4 linked regions of the Homo sapiens genome follow. The protein of the gene in region 1 interacts with the protein of each later gene in a pairwise test. Each region holds a gene or a part of one and is shown in the gene's direction. Other genes may lie near its edges. The genes, in order: NCOA5, ZNF326, MEIG1 and RAB30.

Evidence for each region.
Region 2: the proteins of NCOA5 (region 1) and ZNF326 interact in a two-hybrid assay, tested with the Homo sapiens proteins (one large-scale study listed by BioGRID).
Region 3: the proteins of NCOA5 (region 1) and MEIG1 interact in a two-hybrid assay, tested with the Homo sapiens proteins (one large-scale study listed by BioGRID).
Region 4: the proteins of NCOA5 (region 1) and RAB30 interact in a two-hybrid assay, tested with the Homo sapiens proteins (one large-scale study listed by BioGRID).

The regions. Positions count from the first base shown.
Region 1 is NC_000020.11:46,070,383-46,078,046, reverse strand, and holds part of NCOA5 (nuclear receptor coactivator 5), read left to right. Parts: intron 1-7,510; coding exon 7,511-7,664. UniProt on the Homo sapiens protein: Nuclear receptor coregulator that can have both coactivator and corepressor functions.
Region 2 is NC_000001.11:89,999,436-90,007,099, forward strand, and holds part of ZNF326 (DBIRD complex subunit ZNF326), read left to right. Parts: intron 1-5,567; coding exon 5,568-5,603; exon of another isoform or gene 5,604-5,657; intron 5,658-5,697; coding exon 5,698-5,809; coding exon of another isoform or gene 5,810-5,813; exon of another isoform or gene 5,814-7,010; intron 7,011-7,664. UniProt on the Homo sapiens protein: Core component of the DBIRD complex, a multiprotein complex that acts at the interface between core mRNP particles and RNA polymerase II (RNAPII) and integrates transcript elongation with the regulation of alternative splicing: the DBIRD complex affects local transcript elongation rates and alternative splicing of a large set of exons embedded in (A + T)-rich DNA regions.
Region 3 is NC_000010.11:14,963,556-14,971,219, forward strand, and holds part of MEIG1 (meiosis expressed gene 1 protein homolog), read left to right. Parts: intron 1-2,884; coding exon of another isoform or gene 2,885-2,913; coding exon 2,914-3,051; intron 3,052-7,664. UniProt on the Homo sapiens protein: Essential for spermiogenesis.
Region 4 is NC_000011.10:83,067,722-83,075,878, reverse strand, and holds the start of RAB30 (ras-related protein Rab-30), read left to right. Parts: upstream 1-3,981; 5' UTR 3,982-4,188; intron 4,189-4,416; exon of another isoform or gene 4,417-4,547; intron 4,548-8,157. UniProt on the Homo sapiens protein: The small GTPases Rab are key regulators of intracellular membrane trafficking, from the formation of transport vesicles to their fusion with membranes.

The DNA.
Region 1 (7,664 bases):
AAGTGGGCATGTAAATTGGTATTCTGTCTGTTCTCTCTAAAGAATGCTTGCAGCTTGCAGGTAAATACTCTGTTGGTTGATTTGTGTGTATGTGTGAGTATCCTGAAGAACATAAACAAATCCTGCAGAACTTCAGCAGTTCCGTATAATGTCTGCTTTCATTAGCCTTCATCTAACCATGCCACAGATCTTGGGCAGTCCTATCTGTGTTGCTCCTTATTGTCCCAGCACAGAATGGAATACAGGTGGATAAGAGTTGCATCTAATCTTCAGAAGTACAGGGTTCCCATTGGAATCTTTAGTTGCCAGGTGGCTTGAAAGGAGATAAGGTGTGTATCCAATTTCCAAAGAGCGCTAACGTGTGTGTTTCCTGGTGACTTACCAGGAGTGTGGAATTTGTAACTATAAAAGACACTGACTCCGCTAGTAAAATCCTACCCCTCTCTGTTGTCTCCATGATACTTGGTGATCTCTGGATAATGTCTGTGTGTTTCTGCAGGCAAAAACAACAACAACAAATAAGCCACATTGCAGAATAGAGAATAGATCCTGTTTCTGTTATGGATTGAGAAGGGTATTTTATATCATCCTGTTAATGATACTTAACCAAATGCTTTTAACATTTCTAGTTGATTGTAGATATTCAACAAACATTGCAGTGTTGGGGAATGACCAACTTCCCTGGTTGAAACCCAGTAATAGCCGTTGCCAGAGCATTAAATTAAAAATATTAATTTACCCCAATCTAGAAATAGTTTTATGCTTTTTTTAAATAATAGTCCCCGCACAAACAAACATACAGACAGCACTGGAGAGGGCCTTATAAAATGAGCTTCTAGCCAGGCACAGTGGCCCACACCTGTGATCCCAGCACTTTGGGAGGACGAGGTGGGCGGATCACTTGAGCTCAGGAGTTTGAGACCGGCCTGGGCAACATGGCAAAACCCCATCTCTACAAAAAAATAGCCGGGCGTCATGGCTCTTGCCTGTACTCCCAGCTACTGGGGAGGCATTGAAGCGGGAGAATCACTTGAGTGCAGGGGGTTGAGGCTGCAGTGAGCCGTGATCACACCACTGCACTTCAGCCTGGGCAACAGAGTGAGTCCCTGTCTCAAAAAATAAAATGAGCTCCTTACCAACTATATAAATATACAGGTCACCTTTGTATGCCTTTTAAAATATCACCTTCCTCAGAAATCAATTGTAAAATGAGGTCATTTGGTGGTGTGGATAGGGCAGTGACTTCCTGCTTTATTTACAATCAACAGGAGGGACAGCTAGGCTAATTCAAATTCCATTAACAATCCATCTTCCCCTTGGTGATATTTCCCTAGCTGGGTTCCTCAGCATGTTATTTAACATGATGAAGTTCCATACAGTCATGTTTATTTGCTTCAGGGAAGAATGATGGTCACCATTAGTAACCCCATCTAAAAACCGAACTAAGAGTCCCAGTTTTTTACCTTAAAAAAAAAAAAAGACAAATTTAACATTGTATTCAAAATCCCAGTTTTTTACCTTAAAAAAAAAGACAGGTTTAACATTGTATTCAAAATAGCGAGCACTAACATTTTAATCATTGTCCTGATCATACTTTATCTCTTAAGATATACCAATAGGGCAGACATAAATTGCAAAGAGTAGGTGAGACGGGCAAGTAATTAATCTGGAAGGGGCAAATCATTTAACTGAGGGTGAACACTGGGTACCTCCTTTGGGTGCATGCTTCCAGTCAAAGCCTTGAGATAACTCCAAATGTATCAATAGTTGACAACAACAAACTGCCTTTATTTGGCAGCCCTAATCATTTTGTATGCCCCCAGCCACAGGGGGTGCATCATTCACAGGGGAAAAAAAACACTACCTATGGCAAATATTTCCTAAAGTTATACCTCTACATTTTTAGCGCTTTCTACGTTTAATAAGAATATTGGTATAAGCATACTGGCAAGACCTTTATAACACCTTGTTTTGCTGGACTTAACGTAGGTATCTTTGGGAGTTTTACAGGATTATCACCTCTTCAGATGTTTCAGTAAACCACAGTTCTGCTGGCTTTGCTCTCTATTCAATAATATGACTCCCTGATGACTCCAGCTGTCAGTGTGTAATTCTGACAATATTGGCCCAGCCAAGCACAGAACTCTGCATGAGGAATCTCTGCTCTGGATCACATTTCAGCCTGAATTCTTATCATCTAACTCTTGAGGGCCACTTCATTGAACTCCTGTGAGTACCTTGCATAGTTACCATGCAAGTTGTCAAGCATCGATACTAAGCATTAGTCCTTCTTCAAAGACAGGATCATGATTCCAGTTGTGCCTTAGATATCTCAGTTACCATCTTCAGCTCAACACCTTGACAGTCCAGATCTTGTAGCATATCTTTATGCAGATGTGGCCTCTAGGTACAAGAAGTAAGACTGTACTTCTGAATGACTTAAAGAAGAACAAATAGAATTAACTTGTCTGCATCCAACGCTCTGCAGAGGATTTTTCCCCATATATTTGTGAAAGATGTTAAACCTGGTATCTCTTTGGTGAAAGTCATTGGGTATCGGCTCATCAGAAATAACCTGGCTGTAGACAAGTTTCTTATATGACCTGAAATGCTTTCTGCTTATCCACAGGGCCCTAATGCTTTTGATTATTGCTTGCTCCCTGGTTGTGAGACAGCCCTTGCTCTAGGTGGGCCACAAAGAAATTCCAGGTTGTGATTACCTCTGCAGTAACACTTGAAGAAGTCATCAGTTCTCAGCAGCTGCCACCTCTACCAATAAGAAAGTTCTGTTTGTGCTGGAGAAGGTTGTCAGTGCTTCCTAAGGAAAAGCATGGACATGTGTAAAATTTGGGTCTGTGAGGTGTGATATCTCATTGCACGTCCATATCCTACCTCCACCTAATGGCAATATTCTGGACAAGTCTGTTGTCTCCATTTCTAACAGTAGCATGAAGCCCTCCTGGTGGAGGATCAACATCATACAGCAGCCAGCCATTTAGATGATGATATTTGTGGACAGTATATCTGTGACAGAAGTTTGAAGAGCTAATGAAGGATTTTTCAGGGTCAGAAAGAGGCTGGCCCTCCCAAGGAAGACATTCCGGTGAACAGAAAGGAAGAAAGGAGATGCTGACCTTTGCAGAAAAGAAAGAAAAAGACAGGGGTCTTCCTCCCTGACCGTCTGTAGAACCAAAGCCAAAGAAAACCATCTTGGATGTGAAGTTTCAGTCTCTTGCCAAAGAGAAATTCAAAGTCCATCACAGTTTTCCAAGATGATCATCTATCAGTTCTTACTCTGTAGGCTGTCACATGCCTGGTGCTCTGCACACCCCTTTAGTCCTCAGGAAGAGACACATTCTACCAGAAGCTCATCACTTGCCACCAGAGCCATTGTTTTCCCCTTCACCCCTTTCGCCCTTACGTCTCAAATGTTTCCCAGCAGTGTGACTATATTCCCCTCAAGGCAAAGAGTATTTGCCTTTTTCCCCCTCCTGAATAGATGAGGAATTTACAGCAGAATTTTAGTTGTGTTTGCCACCTGCCTTCAGTTTGTGGACTCCAGTGCTGAAATTTAACCACTGTTCAGTTTCTTTTTATCCTCTAGTGATGTAGTACCTGAGGGTATGCTGCATTTGGTTCCTTTAGTAAAACACCTCTGGTGCTGTGGGATGATATTGTTAACCTTATTATGCTCCAGAAACCTGATTCTAACCCACTTATCATCTGAGGTCCAGCGTCTCCCACAGGAAGCTTTGTCTTCTTGCACTTTGATTCGTGCATACTACTGCCCTTTTGTTAGCTGTAGTCTTGTTTTGAAAAATATGTTGGGGCCAGCAGCAGGAGCCCTTTTGTTCTGAGGAGTTCTTTGTTTGGGTCCTAAAGCAACCCTAAAGGGTTTTTTGTTTTGTTTTCGTCTCCAGAAGAACAGCAGTCTACCATAGTGTTTATCTTTTGGAGAAAGGAAAAAAGGCTTTGCCTTTCCTTTTGAGAAAATTATTATCTTCTTTGTCCCTACTTCCACCATGCCTTTGGTTCTTTTTCCTTTTGTGAATATCACCTCTTCTACATTTTTACCCTGAAGGCACTTGAGAGGGAATTAGTAGTTTTGTTGCACATGGACTTCAAATTATTTGAGGGAAAGGGTGGGGCTTGCCCTCTCAGACTGGAAGATTGAACCCAGACTTTGCGAATCTAGAGTTTTAGTCAACTTGCAGGGATGGACTTTGACAGGTAAGTAAGGTTTTTCAGTGGATTCAAAAGAATGAGGACCAATCATAACATAACACTTATAATACTCCGAAGGTGGTAAATAACATGCTATGACATGCCCCACCCCGATTTCCACCAGCCCAAGGCTTTGTGTGTGGTCTGTGGTCTGTCAGGATCATGATATCTCAGCCCTGATTGCCAAGAACACTTGAAATTGGATTCCACCTCTAATGACTACTTCTAACTGCTCCCCAAGGCAGGTTTATCTGCCGATCATTAATCCAAAAATACTTTGCAGTTGTCCTTTCTCTTTGGATCTTGAGTGTTTGCCCACATTACATGCTACATCAGATGTTACATGTTAGGAAGATTATATGATGTAATAAGGAAGGTTGAAGTAAGAATCTTGGTTAGTCTTTACTTTATTCTAATAAGAAAAATAATGCTTAGCTATTCTCATTTAAAGTCCCTGGTCTATGATATGTTTGCTCTCACAAGTCAGGAATGCTGGTGAACCTTAGAATATATAACAAATATTTTTCATGGAAGCAAAATTGGCATTTAAATTGTTTTTGCTGTGCCCGTGTAGCTGAGGTGAGGTTTTCCACAAGCTGATGACATCATGATGAATACCTAACGTGTGTAACCATGGTAGACGACAAAAGTATGAGCAAAACATGCTGCCTGCTCTTGAGAGGCTTACAGTTTAGTAGAATAATTCAATTCATTAAACATTTACTGAACTCCTATGGTGTATCCTAGAGCTACAAAGCCTTCAAGAGAACTTCTTATTTGGTAGGGAAGCCACGTAAACAATTACAGAACAGTGTGGTAAGTGCGGTTATAGAAGTTTGTACTGGAGCAAGATTCATTCAACATACATATAGAGCATCTGTCGTATAACAGACATTGTTCTACATAGTGGGTTTGTAGTGCAGAATCAAAGTGACATAGTTCTTGTCCTTGTGGCACTTGTAGTCTAGTAGGGCAGACAGACATTAAGTAAATATGTAATGTCAATTTGTGATAAATGACAAAAGTGAAAACAGTGCTATGAGAGAATTTTAGGGGCAGAAAGTAAACTTTGATTGAATCTAACAATCAGGGAGTAGGGGATATTTATATGCTGAGACCTGGAAGAGGAGTATAGATCTCTTCCTGCTACTCACGTAAAGGGATCAGGAAAGACGTTGGCTAGGCAGAGCTGAAAGGCCGGTGTGGCAAAGAGTGGTGAACTAGGGAGAGGGTGTGACAGGGTTAGAGAAGACAGGAGCCAAGATTATACAGGACCTTCATGGCATTGGTAGAGGTTGTAGATTGAATTCTAAATACTGTGGGAGCCTGGCACAGTGGCACACATCTGTAGTTCCAGCTACTTGGTAGGCTGAGGCAGGAGGATCACTTGAGCCCAGGAGTTCAAGGCTGTAGTGTTCCGTGATCCCACCTGTGAATAGCCACTGCACTCCAGCCTGGGCAGCATAGGTGAGATCTCATCCCTATAAAAATAAATACATACTGTGGGAAACCAGGGAAGGGCTTTACATACGTAACAGATCACTGTAGAGTGATCTTTCTGGAGAAAGATTTGGAAAGAGGCAAAAACAGAAATGAGGAGACTGCTTTAGAAGGCTCTTGCTGTGGTTTGAGGGTGAGATGATTATGCGCTGGCCTTCAGTTTTGCCAAAGAAGGTAAAGGAAAGTGGGCAGAACTGAGAAAGAATGGAGAAAATTTGGAAATGTGGTTGGAAGGGAGGATGAGGCTTTAAGGGAAAGATGACATCCAGTTTCGTGGCTTGAGTAACTGAGTAGTTGGATGTGCCATTTACTGAGATGGGAAGGACTGGAGGAGGAGCATGGTTGTTGGGGAAGATCAAGAGTTCAGGGCAGGTTTTACGGAGAAGGTAATCCTTAAAGCGGGTCAGACATAAGACATTGTTGTAAAAGGGTAAATGCCAGATCAAGATGAGTAATACAGATAGAAAGTGCCCTGAGCTGAGCAGAAGAGATCAGCAGTTAGGAAGGGTAGGGAAGGTTTCTTGGAAGACATGGGACACGAACTTGCCTGTGTGGATTGGATGGTACTTGGATTAGTGCAGGAAAAATATTCCAAGTATAGAAATCAAATAAATAAAACTATTGAGATAGATTATATCTTGTGAGTTATAAGAATTAAGTAGAACTGAGGAGGTTGAATTAGAAATGAGAGGGAGATAATAGCTGTCAGATTTATTAGGCTTTCTAACATAGAAGTTGGCATTTTAGGATAGTTAGTGTATTTATGTGTTGAATGAATTGAAAGCAAGTAGGTTGATTTTTAATTTTGTGTTTTGGAAACCTGTTGGTGTCAGAATAGAAATAAGGGCTTGGATTGGACTTACAAATCCAATGGGAATGGAAAGAAAAAGTGAACGGGACACAAGTGACTTTATTGGGATGGGGGAAGAAAAAGCATAGTTAATATTCAAGAACTTAAAACTTGATAAGTGGAAAGATGATTTTGTCAAAAGTGGAAAAGTGGGGAATGGGACTGATGGGGTTGGGGTAAGAAGTTTTTAATTTTAAATATGTTGAAGAGGAGTTTCCAGTGGGTTGAAACGTCTCATGAAGAACATTGAGTCAGAGCAGACAAAGCATATCTGTGACTTCACTGTTCAGGTTGTTTTTTTGTTTTGTTTTGTTCTCTTTTTTTTTTTTTTAAACCATCTTGAGCAAAATGGAATCAGCTTCTACGTAAACCCTCAGATTGAGAGATACCAATACTCAATAGCCCTGACAAAACAGAGAAACAGATTGTTCTTGGTCCTTTACTGTATGTATCTTATAGTAATTTTTTCCCCTTAATTTTATTATCCTGCCAAGATACTTCAAGTGCATTTTCCGTACTTTAAGGACAGTTCCTTTGATCACTTTTATAAGATTGTGCCATTCGCTCTTTTTTTCTTCATGAGTCTTGCCTCCTTACTCTGTCACTCCAACTTTTTACCCCTTGTAAAGTCTCTTTCAAGCAAGTCTGGTGGAAAGACACTTTCACTTTGAAAGCCTGATGAATACTGTTATCCAGTCAAAACCTTCAGTTTTTGGTCATGCATTCTTTTGATGTCCTAATCTTTTGAGATTGTGGAACCTCTAGACTATTTGCTGACCAGATGGATGACTGGCCTTAAATGTTGAGTCATGTTCTGTTTGGCTGCCCTGTTTTAGAGAAGAATGCTTGGAGGGTGGGGGTTTTCTCATATGAAGAGCTGATGGGTTGGCTACTTTCAATTTCTTTGTCTTAGCATTTTCTTGCTACCTCCCACAGGGATCCATATGGCTTTGGAGACAGTCGAGATTCAAGGCGTGATCGATCCCCAATTCGAGGAAGTCCAAGGAGAGAGCCCAGGGATGGCAGAAATGGCCGGGATGCCCGGGACAGCAGAGACATTCGAGACCCCCGAGACTTGCGGGACCACAGA
Region 2 (7,664 bases), on another chromosome or scaffold:
GGACTTGAAATGCAGACTCATGCAGGGCCAGATGTTTATTTATTAATTAGTATACAGTGTTGCAAAAAGATCTAATATGACTTTTATTTTTTCTCTTAATTTTAGTTATAACTGGTTCTCATCTGAGGGTGATTGTTGGAATCTCTTGGGGAGCTTTTTCAAAGTCTCTCTTTTCACACATAGCCTATACCTCTTGAATCTTAATTTCAGGGCAAGTGGTCTTTGGCTGTGTATGTTGTGCAAAACTACTCTGAATGATTTTGGAAGGCACCTCTGATTAAAGACCAATGCTTGACAGTACTTCTAGGTCTAGATTATCTATATTTTACAAATGAGGAACTTAATTTCAGGGATTCAATTTGACTTTGTTCAGCAAATATTTATTTAGTGCCTGCTGGGCATCAGATATCGTTCTAGGAGGTGGGAATATAGCAGTGAACAAAATGGACAAATATTCCTGCCTTTGTGAGGCTTTCCGTCTAGTGGGATGAAATAGTAAACAAGATAAGAAATAATATATATGTCATAATTTAGTCCACAGGGGAAAAAGGGAGTAATATTTATTGTATGTTAGATGATGATCATTGCGAGGGAGAGTAACATAGAGAAGGAGGATAAATGTGTGTGTGTGCTTGTATGTGTTGCAATTTTAGAGTCTCTGGGGAAAGACTCACCAAAAAGATGACATTTGAGCATAGATTTAAGATGAGTGAGTATGCAAGCCATGAAGCCATTTAGAAGAAGACTTACGGGCTTTAAGAAATAAACAGTGTGTAGGTACCAAAAAGCCAAAAATATATTTTATTGTTAGCACTGTATTTTCTAGGAAGTGAAATGAAGTAGAAGGCATTGGAAAACATGGCAAGATACAGATTTTCCCCACACTATTTCTTGGAAGGAAAATGTATTTCCAGTGTCTCCATGTTTTCCTTCTTGCTTCATAATACCTTTTACATAAATAGCATATAGAAAAGGGGAGAGAAAAGGGTGTGGTAGCTCATGCCTATAATCCTAGTGCTTTGGGAGCCTGAGGTAGGAGCACTGCTTGAGGCCAGGTGATTGAAACTAGCTTGGGCAACATAGTGAGACCCTGTCTCTACAAAAAAATTTTTTAAAAACATTAGCCAGGCGTGGTGGTGCCCCCCTATAGTTCCAGTTACTCCAGAGGCTGAGATGGGAGGATCGATTGAGCCCAGGAGGTGGAGGCTGCAGTGAGCTATGATTGTGCCACTGCAGTCCAGCATGGGTGACAGAGCAAGACCTTAACGCTGGCTTGACTAGAACAGATGATTTTTTGCTGAGCAATCTTAAGACAAGGTTAGAGTGGTGAGGTGGAGCCAGAAAGCATTGAAAATCAAAGATAATTTGCTTATATATCAGAAGCAATACAAGTGAAGACCTGAAAAAGTTGAGGGAGTAAACAGTGCAGGTTCAGGGGAATGAGCATTCCAGGCAGAGGGAACAGCAGCTGCTAAAATGGGTATACACCTTGTGTTCTAGAGACATCAAGGGGCCTGGTGTTGTAGTAGTGGAGTGAACAGGGGTGTATGTAATTGATAATGAAGTTAAGAGGTGATGGGGCATATCATGTAGGGCAGGGTTTCTCAAATTTCTTACATTTTGGACTGGGTAATTTTTTGTTGTAGGGGGATGTCCTGTGCATTGTGGAACATTTAGCAGCCTCCTTGGCCTCTATAATATGCCAGATGTCAGTAGCATCTGCCCCCTAGTTGTGACAACCAAAAATGTTTCAGACATTGCCAATGTCCCCAGGGGGTGCAAAATCTCCCCTAGTTAAGAACCACTGGTATAGGTTCTTAGATGTTATTTTAAGCTTTGGCTTTTACTTGGAATAAGAGGAACCCATTGGAGGTTACTGAGCATTGAACATGATTGAACTTAACATTTTGTCAGAATTATTGTGGCTGTTGTCTTCAGAAAAAACAGCAAAGGAGCAAAAGTGGAGCAGGAAAACCAGTTAGGAGACTTTTGCAATAACCTAGGTGGTAGATGTTGGTATCTTGTAGTAGGGTGCTGGTAGTGTAGAGTTGCTAAAAAGTAGTCCCACTCAAGACTTAATGTCACATAGTTAGTTATTTTGGTCATAGGTCAGTTTTTAATTTTTTTTTTTTTTTGAGGTGGAGTTTCTCTCTTGTCGCCCAGGCTAGAGTGCAATGGTGTGATCTCAGCTCACTGCAACTTCCGCCTCCTGGGTTCAAGCAATTCTTTTGCCTCAGCCTCCTGAGTAGCTGGGATTACAGGCACCCACCACCATGCCTGGCTAATTTTTTTTGTGTTTTTTAGTAGAGACGGAGTTTTACCATGTTGGTCAGGCTGGTCTTGAACTCCTGACCTCAGGTGATCCACCCGCCTTGGCCTCCCAAAGGATTGGGATTACAGGTGTAAGCCACCTTGCCCAGCCCATAGGTCAGTTTTTTTTCCCCCAGTATGTCACAGCTGCTGCTTTGTGTTTTAATTAAAAATGAGTTTTAGCATTTTTGAGCGTATTATTTGTATGATAGAGTGATCCAAGTGATAGAATATATTTGATTTAAATTATTAGGTCAGTTTTATTTTTCTGGGTAAATTACTATCATTTAAGATATACTACTATGTTCTCATGGTTTTATTTTTAAAAGTGATTTTAAAATTCATTTTGGTGACCTGGAAGAAAAATTTATAAAAAAGCAGTCATCTTACATTATCTGTAGCCCTATAACTACACTGATTGTATACAATATAAAGACTTTTCCTCCTGTTTAAATGAGTAGTAACATTACTATGAACAATCAAACAGAATCATTGCTATATAAAAGTAGCTTTATTAATTTTTGTACATTTCACAGTGCCTAACACATACATGGTTAGTGTACAATAAATGTTAATAATTTTATGATTATAGTGAAATAAATAGAACAAAAAACTAAAGGTTTTAATATTCAAAGGCAGCCAGTGCTAACTCAAAATAGAAACTAGCAGAAATAAAACATAAGATTTTTTTCTCTGTGTACCTGACTAAACATAATCTTATTTTTTAATATGAGGCCTTAGAGGAAAACTTTTCATTTTGAAAACTTTATTTTAATCTCAGAATTATCCTCTGAGAGATATGAGCATAAATTTTACTATATACTTACCAACTGTATCACAAAAAATTAACTATTTTATTAATCTGGGACTGTGTTGTCCAGTTTGGTAGCTACTAGCTACATGTTACTGTTGAGCACTTAAAACATGGATAGTTTGAATTGAAGTGCTCTGTAAGTGTAAATTACACACCAGATTTGAAGTCTTCAAATGAAAAAAGCAGTAACATATCTCCATATGTTTTGTATATTGATAAACTTTTTGTACTGTTATATTAAAACCCATTAGTATGTCTTGCACTTTGAATGGATCTTTTTTACCATATATTATTTTGTAATATCGGCATTATTTGGAAAATACTAGTTTTTATATAAAATGCAGATTTTCCAAATATTGATCAGTTTTATGGCACAATATTTAAAAAATCATATTCAGTGATACCACCACCAACCTTTCAGAAAGCCTTTAAGTATTGGGAAGGTGTCAAGCTCAAGGTGGTAGATACAACTTTTAAAAAATTCTAATGTTCACTTGAAAGCATGAATTTTATCCTTGACAACAAATAATGTCGGTCGTTTTCGTTAAAACAATGTTTTCACTTAGTTCTTTTTTTTTTTTTTTTTCTTTGAGACGGGTCTCACTCTGTCGCCCAGGCTGGAGTGCAGTGGCACGATCTTGGCTCACTGCAAGCTCCACCTCCTGGGTTCATGCCATTCTCCTGCCTCAGCCTGCCGAGTAGCTGGGACTACAGGCACCTGCCACCACACCCAGCTAATTTTTTTTGTATTTTTAGTAGAGACGGGGTTTCACTGTGTTAGCCAGGATGGTCTTGATCTCCTGACCTCGTGATCTACCTGCCTCGACCTCCCAAAGTGCTGGGATTACAGGCGTGAGCCACCGCGCCCAGCAACTGCTGTTCTAAGATAAAATTTGGACCTTTACCACAGGACTAGTAAATTTAAGATGAGGCCACAAATGGCAGAGTAAGGCAGAGTATCACAAGCACCACGTGAGAGTTACAGGCTTTTGTAAATATTCAGAAGAAGGATGACACTCAGCTGAGAGAGTATCAGTAAAAGTTTTCTTGAATGCATTAGGATTTGAAATGGACTTTAAAAGATTAGAAAGTTTCAATAAGCTGATATTTAGGGTAGCAGAGGAAAATGTTTCATGTAGAAGCAATAGCATGAGACTAGACAAGAGGATATGTATAGAATTTTGGGAAAATCATTTCATCTCTTTGGACGTCAGTTCCCCAGATCTATAAAATGAGAGGATTGATTTTGAACATTCAGGTTGCTACCAGGTTTAAAGTTGGATGACTTTGAGTACTATTTTTATAAAGTTGTTATTGTTGTCATTATTGTTGGGACTAGAGATATTATATGATTATATAAAATTTAATGTTTTAAAAAATATAAAATTAAGATATTTACTCTGTGTGTACTATTGTATTTATTTGTGTATGACATTTGGGGAGAGTAATGAGGGATTTTTAAAGGACTTTATAGAAAACAAATTCTAAATGTTTGTTTTACTTTCTGATTTTTGTAGTCATCCTAAATTGATTTTGTTACCTCTTTTGTTTTATTTTTCATATCAGAGGTTGGTATATAGGCAGAATTGCAGTGTAATAAAATAGACTTAATATGCTTATTGTATTAGTTTTTTTTTTTTAGTGTTCACATTGCTAGAATTTGCATTCATTTGTTGAGTCATAATTTATAGGCACAGTGCCATAGATTGGTCTCAATCTGTGATTTTACTTTTTAAAAATATCTGTTTCAATTACTGTGAACAAGGCTAATTGGAAATGTGGCTGCTTCTGAGTTTTCAGACATTTAAAGAGCAGTTAGATGCAGAAAACAAGTATAGTCTACTGCTGTCATATAGGACAAAAATTTCCCCTTTGACTTTATTAAATGCTGACTTCTTTTAAGAATAGGAATTATGTATCATTAATTATATATGCTATAGTACTTAATACAAGGCCTTATAGTAGTCCCCTAGTCCAACAAATATTGGTTAAATTGAAAATAATTCTGTGGCCAGGTGCAGTGACTCATGCCTGTAATCCCAGCACTTTGGGAGGCCAAGGCAGGTGGATTGCTTGAGCCCAGGAGTTCGAGACCAGCCTGGGCAACACGGTGAAAGCCCATCTCTATCAAAAATACAAAAATTAGCCAGTCTCATAACCCAGTCTCAAAAGAAAATAAAAATAATTCTAATATAGAACTTTTTAGTTGAAAATATGTTTTTCTTTGAAATATCAGGGCTTTTTTTTTTTTTTTTTTTTTAGCAAATTTGATTTAGTAGCTTCTCATCTTTGTGTTTTTCCCTTCAGCATTTAGTGTGAATTTAGTTTAAATGTTAATGGTAAATTATCTCAGGTGATAGATAGGAATATCTTGTGTTTTGTGCAAAGATCCCTGAAGAGAATGGTGTATTTTACTGACAATTTCTTATTGACTCTCTTTTAGGAATGGATCGTGATTATGGCCCTGGATCTTATGGAGGTCTGACATTCAAGGATATTTATCTAAAAATTCTTCTTTTGAGTGCCAGTAAAGGTGAGCATCATATAACTTTTTTCTTTTTAAACTCTTATAGGGATGGATCGTGACTATGGCCATGGATCCTATGGGGGTCAGAGATCCATGGATTCCTACCTAAACCAGTCATATGGCATGGACAATCACAGTGGTGGTGGTGGGGGTAGCAGGTAAATTGCTTAATCATTTGGCCAAATAATTAGACAACTATAAGATTTTGGATATATTATTTTAAGTACTCTTTAGGCATGTTATGATACTTGAACTTCACTGTTTGCTATTGAATCATCACCTTAAATATTTAAAGGTGTTAATTAATGGGTATAAAATTTAAATCAGTATTACTGGCAGACGTTATTTTAGGAAAACACCAGATAACTATATCATGTCAATATAATAGAGTAAGATACACTTTTTAGCAGTGAACTTTTAAAAAATTCTTTTACTTTTAACTTCTTGTCAATCAAAGTATCCTGAAAAATGATATAAAAATGTTATTGAAAATATTATTTATGAAGCTTTTTCTTAATAATTAAAAAAAATCTTTTCTAATGTGGGGTGCTATGTAAATTAGCAAAGCAGTCTAACTAGAATGGATTTTACTGAACCAGTCTAACATTTACTTTCCAAGAAACATTCAGGACATATTCCTTTAATTCTAATTTTAAAGGAAGAGCATATTGCAATAATAAAAATATTTTTAAAATTATGTTCAGGTTATTTATTGACAGGTACTACTTACACCAAAGCACTTGTGCTCTAGGCTAGAAGCATTGTATTAAAGCCATGAATACTATACCTTTGACTAGTCGAGATTGTATTTATATTTTCCTGTTACTACTGTATAAAGCTTAAACCTACTTAAACAACTACAAGCTTTAAGGTTGACCATATTTCAGGAGAAGGGGTGTCTACTTTTTGAGGCACAAAGGTTCCTGCTGAATATAAGTAAAACTAGTTAGTAGACATGTGAAACAGTCATCCTTCTGCATAAATTGAAGGATCCGGATTCCTTAATGATGGACTGAATGATGCTTACTTTCCTTCTTTCTGCTTCCAGTGTACCACTATGGTTTATAGTAAAGAAAAATTAAGAAAGTGAACAGTTGCAACTATTTTGCTTATGTGATAGATGTTTTGAAAAATGTAGTTGGAAATAGGAATAATTTTTATATGGTTACTAGGATTCAGAAGTAAATCTATTTAGTGATCTGTAAATAATTGAAGTAATGTAACACTTAATGTTTTAATATGTCAGTTATTGCCCTTTTATATTGTGAATGTAATGTGCATAAGCTATATCCGTAGATGTTATTGTTTTATCTCATGTGTAATTGTGGGCCTTTATAAAATTGTGTTGTAAGATATCAAGCAACTTTTGTAATCCATGCTTTGGGTTTGTGAGAAGGAAGATGATTTATTTCTTCTGTTAACTCTCTTAAAACCTCGAGGAGACTGTGTGCTCCCTTTTTTAGGGTAGTTTTATGTGATAATTTCCTGAAGGAAATAATTTTGCAAATAATTGAATATATTATAAGATGTATTCTTTCTCATCTGCCTTGAAAATTCATATGCAGAGGGTATATGTTGGTGATCTTTTATGTTTTATCTGTTTATCCTTCTAGATTTGTTAGATTTTCTAGTCTACAAGTAAAAAGTGATTGAGGATTGATTAATTGACCTTGGCTGAAGTTTGGCAGATTGTTAAATTTTTATAACCAGAGATAATTCCCCAAATTTTGACTCCTACAGACACAATGAAGCAGTTTGTGATATAGATTATTGGGAGTGCAAAAGGATCTCTCTGTGTCACAAATAACCTACATCTAAGTAGACTTCAATTTGTGTCCCTATTGAAAGCCAAAATATTGTAAATGTTTTGTAATTTTTAATATTAGGGATAGATTCAAAAAAGTTTGAATAGTTTGTGAACTTTAGCAAATGACCTTTTCCAAGACTAGGGCTGGGCTTAAATAATGACAGACAAATCTTTTCTTCTTCATAAAATAGAAAAGCTGCTAAGAA
Region 3 (7,664 bases), on another chromosome or scaffold:
CAGTGGAGTAGTGAACTTCCCACTAGAATGAATGGCATTAAAGGACAAAGGTTTCACTGAAGCGTGGCTTATTTGTTTTGCCAGGTGTTCCAAATTTTACATAAACTCGTATAATACTGTAAAACTGGACCGGGTGCGGTGGCTTACACCTGTAATCACAGCACTTTGGGAGGCCGAGGTACACGATCACTTGAGGCCAGGAGTTCAAGACCAGCCTGAGAAACATGGTGAAACCCATCTCTACTAAAAATATAAAAATTTGGCAAGGCGTGGTGGCTCACGCCTGTAATCCCAGCCTTTTGGGGGGCTGAGGCAGGCGGATCATGAGTTCAGGAGATCCAGAACATCCTGGCTAACACAGTGAAACCCCGTCTCTACTAAAAATACAAAAAATTAGCTGGGCATGGTAGTGGGCGCCTGTAGTCCCAGCTACTCAGGAGGCTGAGGCAGGAGAATAGCATGAACCTGGGAAGTGGAGCTTGCAGTGAGCCGAGATCGCGCCTCTGCACTCCAGCCTGGTGACAGAGCGAGACTCCGTCTCAAAAAAAAAAAAAAAAAAAGAATACAATATAAACACTATAATATTTAGAATGTTAAGTAATTTAACAAAAATCTAAATAGGAAGAGCATTAGAACATCTTTCTTGTTTTTCATAGAAAAGAGTCCATTGGTACTTGTGACTTAGCCTCCTAACAGTCTTCATTATCTTTTTTTACCAACCACTAAGGGAACATTTAGGCTACATCTTTCATATTGAAGAAATATTTGTCTGAAATTCAGCAAGTCTGTCTATTTTATTTCCATTTCCTATTTTTCCTCTATTAAATCCAAGTGAAGCTAAATTTATGTCTTGTAAAAGCATTTATTAGAAGATCCTTTTAAATAAAACTTTTAAGTCTATGTTAATTAATCGTATATTTAGCATGATTTTTACCCAGTATGAAGGATGGATATTTCTAATTAATGTCATGCTTATTTTGAGTTTTCCTTTATATATATGTATATAAGAGTGTGTGTGTGTGTGTGTGTGTATATATATATATATATATATATACACACACACACACATATATATGTATACTTTTTTTTTTTTTTTTTTTTTTGGAGCCAGAGTCTTGCTCTGTCACCCAGGCTGGAGTGCAACCTCCACCTCCTGGGTTTCAAGCGATTCTCAAGCCTCAGCCTCCCAAGTAGCTGTGATTGCAGGCACCTGCTACCACGCCCAGTTCATTTTTTTTTTTTCCTTTTTGAGAAGGAGTTTCGCTCATGTTGCCCAGGCTAAAGTGCAATGGTGTGATCTCAGCTCACTGCAACCTCCACCTCCCAGGTTCAAGTGATTGTCATGCCTCAGCCTCCCAAGTAGTTGGGATTACAGGCATGTGCCACCATGCCTGGCTAATTTTGTATTTTTAATAGAGACGGGGTTTCACCATGTTGGCCAGGCTGGTCTTGAACTCCTGACCTCAGGTCTCCTGACTTCAGTCTCCCCAACTGCTGGGATTACAGGCTCGAGCCACCATGTCCAGCCTTTCCCTGTTATACCTTTAATGTATTTCTTGACCTTTTAAACATAATGAGCATTTGTTATTGTGATTGAAAAAAATTCATAAAATATTAATTTATTTACAGGATCTGACTTTAATGTGTTTCAGCCAATAGAAATATATTTTAATAGAAGAATGCATTCAAGGAATCATAGTGAAAATTCTGTACACTTTATTTCAGTTAAATGACTGATATATTTTGTTAATAAAATAAGTAGCTGAGAAAACAAGTGTAAGATTATGCCTTTGAAAAACTTGCTATGGAAGTTCGGTGAATAGACAATTACATGAACTAAAGTCGTATATTAGACTTTCCAAGACTATTAGTGACCTCCTACACTGTTTTTAAATCCATGGTCTCAGTACCACGACAGCCACACAGTGTGCATGGAATCTGTGTTAGGCCATTTTCTCACATTAGTTCATCAAAAGATCAGGTACTACAGTGACCTCAGTAAATGAATTGCAGCAATTGGGATGTCTCCAAGCAATTAAGAAGTGAAAAAGAATAAACCATCCCCTCCCAGAAACAAGAAAGCGAACAGAGTGAGAAGACGGGTCTTACATTCCCTTTTTGAGAGAGAGAGAGAGAGAGAGAGAGAGAGAGAGAGAGAGAGGTGCAGCTTTGAATATAAGTAATGGAATGGTGGTGGATATTTTGACAATCTACTGAGCATGTTTTCAGAAATGTGCAAACTATTACCTGGAACTCCAGTATTTGCATACAGCTTTTAGAACATCACTCCGTAACTCCAACTCTGACTGGGATTTTATTGATAAAGAAAAAAACAGTTTTGTATGTATCTTTCAGGGACTTGGGGTTTTTTTTGTTTGTTTCTTACAGTTTTATCCCCACAAAATAGAGCATGAATCCTTCTCAATCTTGGAATTGTATGTTTAAAAACTACTATATTTAATGGGATTCTCAACTCTAAGTATAATTTTTAAGTGTTAGTTTTATTTATTCTTTTTTTTTTTTTTTGAGATGGAGTCTTGCTCTGTCACCCAGCTTGGAGTGCGGTGGCACAATCTCAGCTCACTGCAACCTCCACCTCCTGGGTTCAAGCCATTCTCCTGGCTCAGCTGCCCCAGTAGCTGGGATGACAGGCGTGCACCACCATGCCTAGCTAATTTTTGTATTTTTAGCAGAGACGGTGTTTCACCATGTTGGCCAGGCTGGTCTCAAACTCCTGACCTCATGATCCACCTGCCTCAGCCTCCCAAAGTGCTGGGATTACAGGTGTGAGCCACCGCACCCGGCCAGTTTTGTTTATTCTTAAAGGGAATTTCAAAATTGTCACTATTACATTATCCATTAATGTTGTTTTAACATCTTTCAGATATTATTGATAATAAGGCCTCTGTAACCATGGCTAGTTCTGACGTAAAACCAAAATCAGTAAGTCATGCCAAAAAATGGTCAGAAGAGATAGAAAATCTGTACAGATTTCAACAAGCAGGATATCGGGATGAAACCGAATATAGACAAGTGAAACAAGTTTCTATGGTAAGATTTCTGTCTCTACAAACCTCAACTCGAAATGTATTTCTCAGATGCTGAAAAGTATTTTATAAACAACCAGAGAATAACTGAAGGAAATTCGACTCCAACTCTCTCATTTTATTTGTTTTCTTTTATTTACTTTTATTTTATTTTTTGAGACAGAGTCTCATTCTGTCACCCAGGCTGGAGTGCAGTGACGCAATCTCGGCACACTCCACCTCCCGGATTCAAGGGATTCTCTTGCCTCAGCCTCGTGAGTAGCTGGGATCACAGGCGTGCACCACCACGCCTGGCTAATTTTTGTATTTTTGTAGAGACGGGATTTTGCCGTGTTTGGCCAGGCTGGTCTTGAACTCCTGACCTCAAGTGATCCACGCGCCTAAGCCTTCCAGAGTGCTAGGATTACAGGCAATAGCCAGGACGCCCAGCCAGACTCTCTCATCTTATTAACGGGGAGAGGCCCAGAAGAATGATTTGCAGGCAGAGTGGGAGAAGAGGTGGTCGTTTAGCTGGGCACATTCAGAATTTTCTCTTTTATTGAGCAACTGTGCTCTGCTAAATGAATCTTTTGCGGTAGACCACAAAAAAAAAGCTTTTTTCCTCACTCAGGTGATTTCATTATCAGATAATCAGTATGTTGGGTAACTATTATTTCCCTCCTGTTACTTTTTATTTTAACCATGAATTAGAAAGAGGTTAAAATCCTGTGGTTTTTGGGGCAATTATACCTTACAAACAAAAGTGTTAGAACAACTCGTGACTTTGATAGTATATCCCAGGCTTTCCTGAGAGGGTAGAGACCTAGCTTTGCTTTATGAAGGCTAGACCAAAGTCTAGATTTGGCTCCCGTTTATACAGTGTGGTTCTTCTTAACTTATTTATTCTCTTGGCTACTAAGATATTTTTTTTTTTTTTTTTTGAGACAGAGTCTCACTCTGTCACCCAGGCTGGAGTGCACTGGCGCAATCTCGGCTCAGTGCAACCTCCACCTCCCGGGTTCAAGTGATTCTTAAGAGACGTGTTTTTACAAATTCAGTTCACCCCTGAACAACACAGGGACTAGGGGCTTCAATGCTTCATGCCGTCAAAAATTTGTGTATAACTTTTGACTCCCCAAAACAACTACTAGTAACCTAGTGTTAACAGAAACTCTTGCCCATAAGGTGAATAATTGATCAACCCAGGAATACACTAATATCTTGATATATTTTATGCATTCATGACAAACCTTTTCTTAATTATTTTTGATATTTATAGTCTGTGTGGTTTGCAACTTTTTTCAAATCGTTGCAAATCTCAAAAAAAATTTCAACAAATTTTTTGAAAACAATCCATGTATATATGGACTCCCCAAGTTCAAACTTGCATTGGTCAAGGGTCAACTGTATTGTAAAATATGACATAGTATTCATAAATATATTTTAATTTTTAGATTTGGGATTATAACAGTGTTTATTAACTCAGTTGTTTATTTTTATTTTTTACTAACTCATCATTTTTCAGATTCTAATGTGTAGATTTTGCAGATCACTATAAGCTCTTCTTTTTCTTTTATTCTATTCTTTGACCTCTACTTAAAAATTCCTTTAAAAGTACATAGGAGGCTGGGAGTGGTGGCTCACGCCTGCAATCCCAGCCCTTTGGGAGGCCGAGGTAGGCAGATCACTTGAGGTAATGAGTTTGAGACCAGCCTAGCCAACATGGTGAAACCCTGTCTCTACTAAAAATACAAAAATTAGCCGGGCATGGTGGCATGCACCTGTAGTCCCAACTACTTGGGAGGCTGAGGCAGGAGAATCACTTGAGCCCAGGAGGCAGAGGTTGCAGTTAGCTGAGATCACACCATTACACTACAGCCTGGGCAACAAAGCGAAACCCCATCTCAAATAAATAAATTAATTAATTAAATTAAAATTTTAAAAGTACATAGGAAAAATAATGGAGGCAATACGGAACTATCATGTTATTACCTCTTTAATAGACATTAATTTAATGACATTATTGTGGTTAACAATAGAATTTAAAATACTGATCAAGTGAAGATTGATTACTGTGACTTCCATGTATCTGTCTTCTCAACCATTATACTCTATCCCCATTGCCAAGGATAATTTTCATTACTATATCATCTATGGCTTTTAAACAGAAAAAACAGAAGCATTATCATTTTTATGCTGTTTAAAATAAGCTTTGGGCTGGGCGTGTTGGCTCACACCTGTAATCCCAGCAGTTTGGGAGGCCGAGGCAGGTGGATCATCTGAGGTTGGGAGTTTGAGACCAGCCTGACCAATATGGAGAAACCCTATCTCTGCTAAAAATACAAAACTTGCCAGGCATGGTGGCACATGCCTGTAATCCTAGCTATTCGGGAGGCCGAGGCAGGAGAATCACTTGAAACCAGGAGGTGGAGGTTGTAGTGAGCCGAGATCACGCCATTGCACTCCAGCCTGGGCAACAAGAGTGAAACTCCATCTCAAATAAATAAATAAATAAAATAAGTTTCATACCCTGCCTTAAGATTGGGATGCCCCTAAAGATACACAAGCCTCAGACTCATAGGCGGCCAGCTGTGGTGGCTTACGCCTCTAAGCCCAGTGCTTTGGGAGGCTGAGGGTGAAGGATTGCTTGAGGCCAGGATTTTGAGACCAGTCTGGGTGACATAGTGAGAACCCATTTCTACAAAAAACTTTTTTTAATTAGCCAGGCATGGTGGAGTGTCTCTGTAGTCCCAGCTACTGGGAGGCTCAGGTGGGAGGATTGCTTGAGTGCAGGAGATCGAGGCTGCAGTGACCTGTGATCACATCACTGCACACCAGCCTGGGTGAGAGAGCAAGACCCTGTCTCAAAAAAAAAAAAAGAAAAAAGGAAAAAAGAAAAGAAAGTTGTCACAAGAATTAAATGTAATCACATGTTTGAAGTGCCTGACATTATAGTGCTCATAATTTGTTGGGCTGGGCACAGTGGCTCACGCCTGTAATCCTAGCACTTTGGGAGGCAGAGGCGGGCCGTTCACCTGCAGTCAGGAGTTAGAGACCAGCCTGGCCAACATGGTGAAACCCTGTCTCTACTAAAAATACACAAAATTAGCCGGGCATGGTGGTGCACACATGTAATCCCAGCTACTAGGGAGGCTGAGGCAGGAGAATCACTTGAACCCGGGAGGGGGAGGTTACAGTAAGCTGAGATCATGCCACTGCACTCCAGCCTGGGCGACAGAGCGAGACTCCCCCACAAAAAATTTGTTGACTGAAGGAACAGCAAGTGTTTAGTAAATGATACCTTTTATTAATCTCATCATCTTAGATTCTAAAATAAGTAACAAGAACAATAAAACCTTACACAAATCGAAGTATATGTTCCTTAACAAAAAGAAGCACAGGGATTTAGAGGAAAACAAAATCACTTCCTTCCAGGGACAATCCCCAGAGAGGGCTTAGTGTCCCCAGTGGCATTTGCAGTGGGTCTTCAGGGACGGATAGGATGGTGACTGAAGGCTTGCTTTGGGTGGGATGTTTCTCCCAGTGTGCAGTGGTTTGAGGTTTGAGAGAAGCTGTTTTTCATTACCTGGTGGTATAGTGCTTGCTGACCTTCCCTCCTGAGGGGAAAGTCCTTGAACTTGAGGATCTCATTCCATTCCACCACAGGCAAGAAAGTTTCCCAGATCAAATGGAAATGATCAAGTTGAAAGTCAAGAAGAAAAGAAAGTTCAGAGATGCCAAGGGACATCAAAAGGAAAAATGTCTAGAAGTCAACAAGCAAAGGAGCAACTTAGCTGTCCTAAGGATTGTCCCATATCAAGTAGCTCAGCTCCAGATGTTCGGAAGAGGCATTGGTTGTACTGTTTTCTCACCGGATCAGATGGCTTTCAGATAATCTGCTCCTGGCCCCAGGAGGGAAGAGGGCTGTAATGGAGTCTTGAGAACACCTCCTTTCCCTGCCAAAGGTATTGGAAGCCACACAGGCAGGTGTGGCCTCAGTGGTGGAAAGGACTGCTGGTTTTCTGTAATGTATGTCAGAAGGCCTGCCAAGGCTTCTCAGATATGCTGTTACCTATTCTCGCTAATTCATAAGTAAATGAGATGACACAAAAAATGAAGATGTGTTATTAGAAAGTAAAAGACATGTGGACACAGATGGTATATTCATCTCCTCTTCCTACTGAAAGCTGAGATTTATTCATGGGGAACAGAAAAGGTGCAGGACTACCTGTATAGAAGGTGTTGAAGAACAGGATTTGGAGAAAGGGTGCAGGACTGCCTGTATAGATGGTGTTGAAGAGCAGGATTTGGTTTTCTACAACCTAGATAATGAGTTTTTGGTTATGATAAAGTGCATCTCACAAAATCTGAAAGGAACATATTTGACAGTGGTGAAATACATTAACCTGGCCAGGAAGGGATAACATTGAAGAGGAAGTGGAGAGACAGATCTCCAAATTAGATCAAGCCAAATGAAAAAGTAGATAAACCAATATGGTATACAAGAAGGAATGGTAGGAGATGACTGGGGACAGTGGCTCACACCTGCAATCCCAACACTTTGGAAAGCCAAGACAGGAGGATCATTTGAGACCAGGAGTTTGAGACCAACCTCGGCAACATATAATAATAATGATA
Region 4 (8,157 bases), on another chromosome or scaffold:
GGGCTGAGGAATTTGTAAGATTTCTCAGCTCTAAAAAGGGGTCTCTGTGACCTAAAAGATACTCTATTATAATATCATTTGTTCAAAGATCATAAATATTAACATCAATAACTTAAAAATTCAAGACTTAGGGCAAGAAAATTTTTATTTTCAGAAAATTCTAAACAATATATTGTCTCTGGATACTTCAGCTTTTAAGTTTCTGCATAACTATCATAATTTTACCACAGCGTTGAGCTCTTACTAGGTGTCTCTTAACATTAGACTTTCTTAATATTAGGCTAAACCCTCATTCTAAGAAATATACAGGTTAGTCAGGATATCATGGTTGGTCCCTTTTTTTTTTTTTTTTTTAAACGGGAGTTTTGCTGTTATTGCCCGGGCTAGAGTGCATTAGCACAATCTCGGATCACTGCAACCTCCGCCTTCCAGTTTCAAGCGATTCTCCTGCCTCAGCCTCCCAAGTCGCTGGGATTACAGGCACCCGCCACCACACTCAGTTAATTTTTTGTATGTTTAGTAGAGACGGGGTTTCACCATGTTGGTCAGGCTGGTCTTGAACTGCTGACCTCGTGATCCACCCACCTCGGCCCCAAAGTGCTGGGATTACAGGCGTGAGCCACCGTGCTTGGCCCGGTTGGTCCTCTTAAAGCTAAAACTGATCTCATCTCCTCTCACTCCCCTCTCCCTCCCACAATTGCCATGTGTAAACCGTTCACCAGGTAAATTCCTTATCTACACATTTTCAGAATTCATTCATGGGTATAATTAGCAATAAACCTAAAATCTTTCTCAAAGCTTTTGTTATTGTGTGACTTACTGCAAAAATACAAACACAGGATGTAGAGGACTACTCCACCCAACTCTTGTAGACTCACCTATAGTTTTAAAAACACAATACTTGGTTCTAACCCTGGAGATTTCAACAGGGATGGGAAGGTAACAGCCATATACTTTTAGAGCTGTATAGGTTATCCTGACACCTCTACTGAAAAAAACCCTTGCTCTAACAGCAATTGGCTTCATACTCTTAAATGAGCTACCTATAATTTTAATACAAATCCATGTCCTAATTCTCTTTATTATTTTTTTGAGATAGGGTCTTGCTGTTGCCCAGGCTGGAGTACAGTGGCTCAATCTCTGCTCACTGCCACCTCCACCTCCCCAGTTCAAGCGATTCTCCTGCCTCAGCCACCCTAGTAGCTGGTATTACAGGCGCACGCCACCACACCTGGCTAACTTTTCTATTTCTTGGAGATGGGGTTTCGCCATGTTGGCCAGGCTGGTCTTGAACTCCTGGCCCCAAGTGATGTGCCCATCTCGGCCTCCCAAAGTGCTAGGATTACAGGTGTCAGCCACTGTGCCTGGCCCTAATTCTTTTTTGAGAGATGAAAAGCTTTACCTCCTCTAGATATTCCTAATTCCACTTTAACAATATTTTCCTAAGTTGTGGTGTTTCTATGGGACACTGTTATTTTTTCAGAAGCTGGCCTCCCCAACTCCTCAAATATCAATTTTATAAATAAAATTTATAATGAGTGCAGGATTTTTTCATCTTTATGGTCAGATGTCCATTAGATACAAGGATAGAAAAACTTCAAACTACCCAAACACATGACAAATTATAGAAATCACTGTATTCTAGAGGTATCACTTCTCAAACACAAGCTTTCTTTCTTTTTTAAAAACAGACATAGTCTCACTGTTGTCCAGATTGGAGTACAGTGACACAATCATAGCTCACTGCAGCCTCAAACTAATGGGATCAAGTGATCCTCCTGCCTCAGCCTCCCAAGTAGCTAAGCCTACTGGCATGCACTACTATGCCCAGCTCACACAGAAGGTTTCTGAGTAATCTGTTGCTCTTTTTCCCTACAATTTGTCTTCCATATAACTCAAACTGACAAGGCTATGGCTTACATAAAGAAATATATTATAAATCAACAACACTCATGATAAGTTTACATAAGACATGAGAATACACCTGAATCACCAACCGGGAAAAATGATTGAAGAGCTTGAAATTAAGCCTAAGTGTAAGTCTCTGTTAAGCTTACAACATTACAATAGTTAAATCGAAGGTTAGAAAGAAAATGGTAGACATTGCTCCTTTTCCTGTACTTACCACCATTACTTAGAGAAGTTTCTGAATAACAACAACTTTGAGCCTTTTTCATTGTTGTATTCATGGATGACACCAACACATACTACTTCTGCTTAAAAATCAAACTCATTCATCTTGACTTGTTCCCAGAAACATGACACAGAAGATCATTTTTTGAAAAAGTATTTTTGTAATTACCATCTGCATACACCTGAGAGACTGTTTCTAACATGTTTTGGTCATTTTTAATCATTCTATCTGCCTTTCTTTGTTATAAGGATCTATTTTTAATTTTATTCACTCCTAACATAGAGGGGAAGTGCATACCTTCAATGACGCAAAGTAACTAGTTAATGTTGTTTCAGAATAATATGCAAAAGGGAAGGGAGGAAACAGCACAAAGTATATCATATTTTTACACATCAGACACCTTCAGGAAGAAAGGACATTTCTCATCTTAGTGTGACAGACTCTGAAAAAGAACACACAGCACTGTTTCAGTGACACAAGAAAAAAAGTACAGTTCATTTTGAGATACTGTGCAAAATCACTCAAAAGACAATTAACTTTGGTTTCAGTCACTTAGTTAAAAAAAAAATTTATCCATGACCGATGTTACTCTGGAATCTATTGCCAGACGTCAGAAGGCCTATCATCAATAATATCCCACCCCTCCCGCCTTTTCTGAGACACGGGCTTGCTGTCGCCCAGGCTGGAGCACAGTGGTAGGATCGAGGCTCACTGCAGCCTCAACATCCCGGGCTCAAGCGATCCTCCCACCTCAGCCTCTAGTGTAGCTGCAACTACAGGGGTACACCACCATGCCCAGCTAATTTTTTTGTTTAATGTTTTTGTAGAGACGGTACGGGGTCTCCGCATGTTGCCCAGGCTGGGGTTGAACTCCTAGAATCACGCTATCTCCCCGCGTCTGCCCCCAAAGTGCTGGGATTAAAGGCGTGAGCGACCGCACCTGGCCAATATCCCCTTTGAACATCTGCTTTCGCTGGTTGGTAAAAAAGTGTCATTTTAAATTTAGTGTTACTCCTTCAGGCTATTCCCTCTCTCTTCTTACTTGCAGGGCCAAAGCAACGTCTCTTTCCACCTTGGTCACCTTCCAACAACGATTTCTTCGGACGCCTTTGTTAATCATTCCTGTATGAAAAATCAGTGAATCTGAAGCTTTGGGGAGAGTGAAAGGGGGTTGGAAAACAAACGGCAAAACAAAAATGCATTTCGGAGGACTACCCCAACTCTGTGGGTGGAAGTGGGCTTCTCCGAATAAAGGCGAGGGTCGCCGCCTCGGGTCCTCGCACCTCAACAAAAGACACCAACTCTCTCAACTGTACTGTTAACAGATCTAAATGATACTCCAAGCCCAAAAGTAAACCGACTCTCTCAATCTCTTAGCTAAAAAATGGAGAAGGAAGCGTAGGGCCCCATGCAACCCCTTCAGGAGCTGAGACCGAGGCTCACTGGGCCTCTGGATGCCGCTTCCAGTCGGTCCCGCCCTACATCAGTCCCCAGCATGGCCTCCACCCTCTGGTTCCCAGGTTCGTGCCCGCGGCTATCCGACCAGATCGTCCTCCACCTCACCGTCCCCACTGAACCACCACTTGACTCCTGCGCACCCCTAAAACCTCTGCCCGGCTCCGCGGAATCGTCCCAGTACTCCTAACATGGCGGCCGAGTCCCCTTTGCTCCTTCACTCTGGGCGCGTCCCACTTGGAGCATTTTGGGCATTGTAGTTTCGGGGATTGCCTGGGTATCCCTTCAGGACGTAAGAAGACTACAGTTCCCAGAAAGCACCGCTCCCGAGCATGGCTATTGGGGACGTTTGGACAGAGGGATGATGTCATTGCAAAAGCCCCACTGCATTCATTGTGCTACGGTCTCTCCACCCCCTGCTGCTGCTGGGCTTGCGATTGCCGCTCGCTCCAGCTGAGCTAAGTGTAGCAGCAGCACCAGGGCAGGGACTGACTCCAGCCCTTGGACTCAGGACATCGCAGACCTTCCCTTGCGTGCGTGACTCATTCGCACATCCATTTCTGTTTATGCCTGGGGTGGGGAGAAAAATCCCAAACCAGGTGAGTTGAAGTGATTTATTCAAATGCTTCTACCAAGTTATTCCTCCCGCTTAGTTCTCAAGGCTTTCTTTTGGGAAGCTGTGAGCGGTGGGGAGGTGGGGGGGATTGGGGAGAGGCTTGCAGGCACAGCTAAGGGGAAAAGCTCTGTGCCATTTGGGTCACTGCAAAGAACAACTCCAGCAACCTTCCCCCGCCAGAGGACGGGTGCCTGCCAATTCCCTAGTCGCAACTCCTCTCAACCTTTTTGAGGCGGAGAGAGGGGGCTGGGCTGGGAAGGATGTTGGGGAGTGCTCTTGGAAAATCTGAGGAAGGCAGAGGTGGGGGACTGCAGTCCTGTCACACACGGCCCGAGAGCTGAGGTTTGAGTGGGAAGGGGTGATGCGTGGGGAGAAATGGAGACAGTGAATTAATGTGGTCGCACTACTTTAGAACATTTGAATGTCGCTTGGACGAGCACTAGTTATTAATTTTTAAGATGAACGTGCTTAAGTTTTGTAGGGCTTTATTTTATGTGTGTATGTCTATGTGGTTTGTCTCGCCTTTTCTGCTGATTTGAGGTGACAGTGTCCTTTAATGGTGCACTCCGTGCCAGTCAGAAACATTTCACGTGTCTGGCGAAGGTTCTTTCAGGCTGCTGGAAGCAGCGTTTTTGTTAAATGTTTTCCGTTCTCCGACTGCTGGATTCAAGATTGTTTGGAAGTGGAGCCGACAGATTTGTGCTTGTGTGTTTTAAATTACATTGCATAGGCTCTTTGCCACTGACAATGGTACCATAATGAGCTGCTGTTTCCTGAGGCATAGTCACTACTCACAAATAACGGTTTGAAGAGATCGATTAGGGAAGAGGGGTTCATTTTAACACATTAGAGAAAGGGAAAGTTAGAAGCGCTGTTAACCTTCATTTGCCATTACTGAAAGGTGCCCATGGAAGAGTGATTTTGGTTGTTTTGTTATTGTTGTTTTTTTAAACGAACTGACATTTAACAGGAGAGAAAGCATTCTGACTTACATGATGCTCTTGTAAGAGTTATAGGGATAATTAGGGCAATAGATATGTTACTTTGAGATAAACAGCTGGCTGGCTCCACAACAGATGGGGCCAGTCTTGGCTGAGAGATCTACACCCTTGGAAATGAATGGGCCTGGGGTCAACCACACCCCCTCTTGGAATGTCAAAAGAAGGAGAAATGCCAGAGTATTTGCTTAACTCTAGAATGCTAAACCTTTTCCTAGCTGAGTCAGACATGGGCGAAATTCTTTACTGGCTGTCTTCTGCTGCTAAGCCAATTTTGTTCATTTTAAATTCAGATCCTTAGGTCTCCAAAGTTGTAGCTGTGTGATATTTCATTAAATGCTGCTTGATGCTGAATGCAAAGGACAGTCCATTGTATGGGCTTTGTAGTAGAGTGATTTATTGGGATGCCAATGAGCAGCTTTTGGATTTGGGAAAAGATCAACAGTTAGCCTTTGCCTCTGCGTCTCTCTGTTGATGACGCTCTGCTCTTCTGGACACCCTACCCTTCTCTCCTGTACTTTCATTTCTTCCCCCCACCCCACCCCATCCCACCCACATCTCTTGAAATTCTGTTTATTTCTCTATCTCTCCATTTGCAGTTTACATTTTTCCTTTCTGTTTCAAAACCCCTCCTTTATCACCAGCATATCACATCTCTTTCTCTTCAATCTTAGAACACACTCCCTGGTCCTCCACTTCAACTAGGAACTCCTGGGTGGATGTAGACTATGTGAATATTTTTGCAGAATCCTCTTTGAAGAGAATTTCTTTGCCTTTTCTTTTTCTTGCAGTCTGTGCTTGGCAGGATGAGCAGCAATGAGCCTGACCCCTGGTCTGGTTTGTAGTTCCTGTGACAGACATAATTTAGCCCCAGCAGCATGTGAACAATGAAATGCTGCAGTTGGGCTCATGCCACTTTTCCTTTCACTGGCACCTGCCTATGGATTAGCAAGGTTTTTAAATGCTCTACATGAAATGTTCTCATAATTCCCAAGGAATAAGTAGTCTTCAAGTGGCTTGCCTTATACAATACATTTTTTTTTTCCTTATCCTTGCTGCAGCTGGTGGTGGGAAGGCTGATCTTTCCCCCCTCTTTCTTCCTGTTCCCTGTGGATTGCTGAGTAGCAATCCAGGTGGCCAAACTGCCCATTTGGTTTTTTGAAGATACTTGGAGGACAACAGTTCCCCACCCACCCTGGTTGTTTCTTCTCCTCTGTGCAGGAAAGAAGTTTGTTATTTTATTCTCTTCTCTTAACGGGAAGAGTGTGATAGTGGCTATATTTGTTTATGTAACAGCAGTGCTCCTCTAGGTGTGGAAAGTCTAACTGCTATCCATCTGGAGGCAACTAGTGTAACAGGCAGATTCAGAAGCTGTCCTCTTAGACCTTTTATGCACCATCTTCTCATTCCTAATTTTCTTCTTCTGAAATACTTCCTTACCCACCAAAGTTTCTTTTATTGTCCTAGGGAGGAGAAATGGGCTGAATGTAGTGTTAGATTTGGCCTCATCACTGCTGTCTCTGGGACCTTAAATAACTATTCATTTCTTTCTGCTTCGGTTTACTTATTTGCAAAGGGATAATGATCCTTGCTCTTTGGTTTACTGATGTTATAGCCCTCTATAATCTGGCCCCAACCTATAATTCTGACAATTTATATTGATTGAGCAGCTACCATGTACTAAGCACTGTGGATACATCAGTGAAAACAAATGCTTTCCCTGACTTCATGGAGCTTATATTCTAATAGGGGATATACTTAATAAATAATTGCAAGTGTGATGAATGCCATTTCCAAAAGGGTTGGGTAGGAGTGCCTGACATGGTACTTTCCCCTTGTCTAGGGTTATCAGGAAAGGTTTCCTATAGGAAGTGACACTTCAAGAGACTTGGAGGGTAAACGGAAGTAGTAATTCAGGATGGCAGTGGGAGATGCTTATAGTGGGACAAAGGTTTCTGGCAGAGGGAACTTCATGTTCAAAGTTCAAAGGGAAGAGTGGTGAACCTGAGGATTTGAAAGGAAGTTAGAGACAGAGCAAGAGGAGAAAGACTAGAATGAAGAATGAGGCTGGAGAGGTGGGCAGAGGCTAGAGAGTAGGCAGTTCTTTGAGCTACAGGTGTATTTTGGTCTTTATCCTAAGGCTAATGAGAACCTAGCCTGGCTTTAAAAAACTAGATGAATGGCATATGTAGGATGATATTAAAATATTATCCTGGCTGTTAAGTAGAGGAGATTGAAGGAAAGACTTGGTCAGAGTGAATGTGTAGAGACCAAGTAGCAAATAATTTTTGTCGTCTGTATGAGGGATGATGGTGCTTAGATCTAGGGTGGTGACAGAGGGTTTAGAGAGACACTAAGTTTTTTGTTTTTTTTTTTTGAGACAGAGTTTTGCTCTTGTTGCCCTTGCTGGAGTACAATGGCGCAATCTCGGCTCATTGCAACCTCCGCCTCCCAGGTTCAAGCAGTTCTCCTGCCTCAGCCTCCCTATTGTCTGGGATTACAGGTGCCCGCCACCATGCTCAGCTAACGTTTGTATTTTTTTTTTTTTTTTTGAGACAGAGTCTCACTCTGTCGCCCAGGCTGAAGTGCAGTGGCATGATCACAGCTCACTGCAGCCTCCATCTCTGGATTCAAGCGATTCTCCTGCCTCAGCCTCCCAAGTAGTTGAGATTACAGGCACCCACCACTCCCAGCTAATTTTTATATATTTAGTAGAGATAGGGTCTCACCATGCTGGCCAGGCTGATCTCTCAAACTCCTGACCTCAAATGGTCCACCCGCCTCAGCCTCCCAAAGTGCTGGGACTACAGGCGTGAGCCACCGCACCTGGCAACTTTTGTATTTTTAGTAGAGATGGGGTTTCACCATGTTGGCCAGGCTGGTCTCGAACTCCTGACCTCAGGTGATCCACCTGCCTCTGCCTCCCAAAGTTCTGGGATTACAAGCATGAGCCA